2 separate regions of the Homo sapiens genome follow, and region 1 is linked to region 2. The links come from fine-mapping of genetic effects on gene expression. Tissue or cell type: whole blood. Region 2 holds a variant in brackets; the other region holds the start of a gene. All regions are shown on one strand. Distances are between the middles of the regions.

The links. PIP is the estimated chance that this variant, and not a neighbour inherited with it, causes the effect.
Region 1: FAM171A1 starts here. The variant in region 2 is fine-mapped to the expression of FAM171A1 in whole blood (TOPMed, PIP above 0.99). The same link has a PIP of 0.9 or more in blood mononuclear cells and tibial nerve.

Annotation. Positions count from the first base shown.
Region 1 is chr10:15,369,800-15,372,477 of GRCh38, reverse strand. FAM171A1 (family with sequence similarity 171 member A1) reads left to right here and starts at 1,189. Exons shown (of 8, transcript NM_001010924.2): 1 at 1,189-1,522. The coding sequence starts at 1,426. RefSeq lists silencers at 1,143-1,192, 1,203-1,432.
Region 2 is chr10:15,254,046-15,256,723 of GRCh38, reverse strand. FAM171A1 (family with sequence similarity 171 member A1) reads left to right here. Exons shown (of 8, transcript NM_001010924.2): 4 at 1,845-2,003. Among named protein-coding and RNA genes, the nearest start is that of FAM171A1-AS1, 47 kb to the right of the region's middle. RefSeq lists an enhancer at 367-1,010. The variant A/G (reference allele first, on the strand shown) is at 1,581.

The DNA of each region.
Region 1 (2,678 bases), 120 kb before region 2:
GGCCATCCACCTACCTCAGCCTCCCAAAGTGTTGGGATTATAGGCATGAACCATCACACCCAGCCAAGTCTGGAGGTTTTTGTGAAGAGTTTCAATTTTGGGGTCAGACTGACTGTTTTATTAGAATTTTGGCTCTGCCACTGACCAGGTATGCACTTTTGGACAAATTCCTTAACCCTCTTTAGCCTCTTTTCTCATCTGTGAATGGGGGGGATAATGCTAACTACCTCTTAGATCATGTATTGTGAAGATGGACAAAGAGTCTCTGCTTGACCGAACTACAGTCAGGCTCCGGAACCTTCTTCTAGGCTCAGTTGTGCCCTTCCTTGTAAAATCTGCTTTCAGGAAGAACCCTGCTAAGTCAGTTTACCAAGAACCCTCCACCCTGGATATCTGATCAGCTTCCCCATCCGCCCTGTCCTGCCCAGCCCTGCCAGGGGATGTCTGACTTTCAAGAATCCCCCTTCCCCCTGATGTTTCCTCTTATAATTTTTCATTCCCTGCATCCCACCCTGGTCCTCGGTTATAAATCCCCACTTGTTCCTGCTGTATTCAGAGTTGAACCCAACCTTTCTCCCCGACTGCAGAATCCCATGGTAGGGCTTATACCTATTGCGATGGTTCCAAAGAGGGTCTTCTTTGCTGTGCTTTCACACGTGTCATGGAATAGTCTTTTTTCTTTAATAGGACAGAAAGTTTTAAAGCACCTAGGGCCTCAAAAGATGTGGATTTCCTCCCCACCCTAACCCCTAGAACCATCCAAGTACCATTCCTCCTGAAGCTGTCCACCCGCCAACACGTAGGTACTGCAGGCCTACTGCAGTCTATACTGGCTTGGGGAGTGTTTTTGCGGATCTTTAACACTGGGTGTGAAATCTACGTTGGGGGACACAACTACATTAGGATGGCACCTGGTGGGGGGGTCACACCCAGATACAATGTCTCCTGCGGCCCCTTGGGTGACCTGGTGTGATGAAAAGGGCTCCGCCCTGAAAGGCAGGTCTGGCTCTTCTGCGGGGCTGCGGGGATGGGGCGCGCCGGGGCAGTGTCGCCGGGGGTCGGGCTGGGGGCGCGACGCAGCGGCGCCGGGCGGGGGCGCCCTCGGCGCCGCAGCCGCCAGGTGGCACCACGGGCCCGGGGCCTGGGCGCGGGCAGCGGCGGCGGCGGCGGGCGAGGCAGGAAGGGGTTAAGGAGCTGGCGGAGCAGCAGCAGCCGCCGCCGCCGCCGCCGCCGCGGCTCTTCGGGGAAACCCGGCGCGGGGCGCGGGAGGGAGCGGCCGGGGCGGCGGGGCCGGGCCAATCGGGCGGCGGGCCCGGCGCGCGGAGCCAGCGACATGGAGGGGGGCGCGGCGCCCGGCCGCCCGTGACGCGCCGCCGCCCGGCCCGCTCTCGGCGAGCCCGAGCCGCCGCCGGCCCCGCGGCGGAGATGAGCAGGTCCGCGACGCTGCTGCTGTGCCTGCTGGGCTGCCACGTCTGGAAGGCGGTGACCAAGACGCTGCGGGAGCCCGGCGCCGGAGCCCAAGGTCAGTGGGCGGCGGCGGGGCCGGGGGCTTTGTGTCGCGCCGGGCCTGGCGCGGAGGCGGCGGCGGCGGCGGCGGCGGCGGGAGGGTCCCGGGCCGCGTGGTGGCGACGCAGCCCGAGCCGCATCGGGAGCCTCCGGGCCTGCAGCACCCGCAACGCGCTCCCGAGGGGGCGGCGCGGGCCGGCGACGCGGGGTGACCCGGGCGGAGGCTTCGGGGGCCGGGGATCGGGGGCTGGGTCGGGCGGGGGCGCGGGCAGCTCCAGCTGCTGTCGCCGCTGCGGCGGGGGCTCGTCTGGATGCGCCCGGGGGTCCCCTTTATGCCGCGCCTCGGACACGCGGCTCTGTCTCCCATGTCGCCGCGGACAGAGGGGCCGCCCAGGGCGCGCCGCCCGATCGCGCTCCCGGCTCCCCACGCCGGGCTCGGGTCTGGGAAGTCCCAGCTCCTGGGCTGCGCTGGGGCCTTTTGTTGTGGCGGGAGGGGGTGGCTGACGCCCCGGGGTGCCCCCTGTGTCCCGGGGCCCCGAGGTCCGCTGCCGCCACTAGCCACTAGCCTGCCGCAGTTTGGGAAAGTTTGGGGGGTTCTCTCCCCCTGCCTATCTGACGTCTCTTCCAGACCATAAGGGATTTGCTCAGCGGCCCATGAGTCTTCTCTGTAAGGGAAGAAAGAATTGAACTGGGAGGCCCTCATCGCTCACCAAAAAAAAAAAAAAAAAAAAGAAAAATCCTTTCCAGATCAGTTTGTCGCCAGCTCGTGCCTTTTGTCTCGTCTTTGGCCTCCACAAATCTGCTTTCCAGCCCTGGGAGTAACGTGGTCGCCTCTGAGAATGGCCACGAGCCTGTCTTTTGTTTTTAAAATCAGCGTTTTTTGAGGGGAGTCCCCCACACCCACCCTGAGGCTTGCTTGGCACATTTTTGTGGGGACAGCGTCGAGGACTCCTCTGTTGCTGGCGTTTTCAAAAGGGCCACTGAGGCCCGCAGATGAGCCTCTGCATTCACCCAGGGCACCGCTGCCTGGACTCTTGCCGGGGGCTCAGGTCTCTGCGAGGGAGCTCCCTGCAGCCCTGCAGAACCCCGGGATTCCGAGCCCGAGGCCTGTCCCCTCAGAAGGGTGTGTGTCCTGCAAAGTTGGCCCTGCAGGCCAAAGAAACGAGGAGTGC
Region 2 (2,678 bases):
GACATCGGTATTCTGTAACATCGAGGGAAAATAAGACCAGACTAAGAAGAATACAATAATGTTAAAATACCCAGATCCCCAGAGGCTGGTGTGTCGCTGTGGGTTTGTTTTAGGGATGAAGAAGGGGAATCGATGGTCTGGAGCTAGACTAATGTCTGTGTCTGTTTAGTTTCAGCAGAGATGACCGGAGTTAGATAGGACTCTCATGATTTTGGGCACCTGCTCGCTGGGCTCTAAACCTGGGCCTGGATTTCACAGAGTGGAGAACCAGCCCCTGGAGAAGTCTACCTGCTAGTTTTTAAAAGGAAGAGGGAGCATTGTGACTCCCTGCCAGTTAGGCAGTGTGTAGCCAAGACAGGCTGCCCCCGACATAAGTCCTTTGGACCTCAGTGACTTCACCTTTAAGAAGAGAGACTTGGGCTAGTGGATTCTTGGAGCTCTAAAACTCCCTTTTTCTAGAACACGTCTAGACAGGCTTCTTCACTCCTTACAAGTTCTTTGATCCAGAGTTAAAAGGAACCCTGGAGTGGAGATAAAGCCCACCAGCTCCGTGCAGAGCTGTTGAAGCAGGACAGCAGGGGGCCGGGAGAAGGAACCCTCAGCAAAGCACAGGTGGAATGTGGTCTGCCTCAAGCCTGGGGTTGGATCTACAGTTTTTCTCTTAACAATGCTTTTGCCAGGTTTGCACAAAATTACCTAGCACCTTTACGTCTGGTGAATATCACCGCAGCATTAGGTAAAAACCAGTTCAGGTTTTATGATCAAAACAACATCTGGGCCAGGCGCGGTGGCTCACACCTGTAATCCCAACACTTTGGGAGGCTGAGGCGGGTGGATCACCTGAGGTCAGGAGTTCAAGACCAGCCTGGCCAACATGGTGAAACCCTGCCTCTACTAAAAATACAAAAATTAGCTGGGTGTGGTGGCGGGCACCTGTAATCCCAGCTACTTGGGAGACTGAGGCAGGGGAATCGCTTGAACGGGAGGCAGAGGTTGCAGGGAGTTGAGATCACACCGCTGCACTCCAGCCTGGGCGACAAGAGCAAAACTCCATCTCAAAAAAAAAAAAGAAGAAGAAAAGAAAAAGAAAATTTGGAGCAAAGTTAAGCTGCAGAGGACGGCACAACCAACTGTCTAGGGCCTGTCAGCCCAACCTGTCCTCCTACACAAAGGAGTTGAGTTTGGTGAAGAAGCATCATTTTGCATCATTTCAAAAGTCTCATCCTAAATTCTGTGACATAATCCATCACAAGTAGGAAGCACGCCTCCAGAATAGACTGGATGATGACAAATGGCAGCTCCCACAGAAAGAGAAGATTCATTGCCGCTGGGGTATTGTTTGCAATTCTTTTCAAGGTTGCACTGTTAATTCCCTTGCCCTCCTTCAATTTGGTTCATGGCATTAAACCAGATTTTTCCAGGGAGATTAAAGACGGGTTTGCAGCGGTATCAAAGAGTATCTCTTACATTGTTTGAGTAAAGAGATTAATAGTCATCTACTTGTTTCATTTACATGGAGTTTCCCAAAATGCTACCCAGATCCACAGGCAAATGCTGGGCAGTGACAAGACTGCTTGCAC[A/G]TGGAACTTGGAAAAAGCTTTTTGTTAAAAACCTAAATAACATCCTGTGTCAAAACAAATGTGACAATGGGCTATTATTTCTCTCCCCATAATAGCATGTTGTCACATCTCTGTGTCCTGCATGAATGGGGGAAGGGAGGCCTTGTGAGAGGGAGCAGGGTGGGGGAGGCGTGCTGAAACCTTAGAGAGGCACTTCCTGGTTTTGCATTTTCTAAAAACAGAAACTGCTCCTGGGGGAGATAACTCGGAGGTTAATCTCTGCAGGTGCCCGGCCACAGCCTCGCGTTCATTTCCAGAGAAGGGCTCTGAGGTTGCCTGAGAACACCAGCTACAGTGACCTGACCGCGTTTCTCACGGCCGCCAGCTCCCCTTCGGAGGTGGACAGTTTTCCTTATTTGCGAGGATTAGACGGAAATGGAACAGGTAATTGGAGTCTTTTCTCTTTTCAGTGGGAGTTACTGTGTTTTAGTCTTTACATGTGGATTTTAGGTATGATTGGGAGTTTTAGCACTATGTGGGAGAAAGGCACTGAAGGTGCAGAAGGGGAATTCTTGGTACAAGTTCAAGTGCTTTGAAACTGTGTTACGTCGGTACGAGCCCTGCAGAATTACATGTTAGCACATTGGTCTCCTTGAGCTTTTCTTCTGTTACCAGTTGCCTTAAGCACCTTCTCTGAGCTCTCCTTTGGTGGACTAAATATATTCAATTCAGAGAAATTCTTATTGAAATTGCAATTTTTTTAAGTATAAGATTAGACTTAGGGTTTTTGGCCCAGCTGCCCTCTGCCTCGTCCCACGAGCCCCCATTTGAGAGGGTAGCCTGTGGGTGGGTGGGGCTGGTAGAGACTTACCACCCCACCCACCTATGCTGCAGCCAGGAGGGGAAGAGGTGGTGCTTGGTCCAACTCAGAGACAGGCATACCTTGGCTCCATGCCCCACCGGCATGGGGACCACTTAGGATGGGGAGCCTCCGCCCTCTGCCATCTGTGTCCACCCAGCTCTTTCCCACATCGTTTCTTTCTCTGCACTTGCTCTCTCTGTCCTCAACTGGGCATAGAGTGGCCAGGCTTTGAATTTGCTTTAGAATCCGCCCTCTCC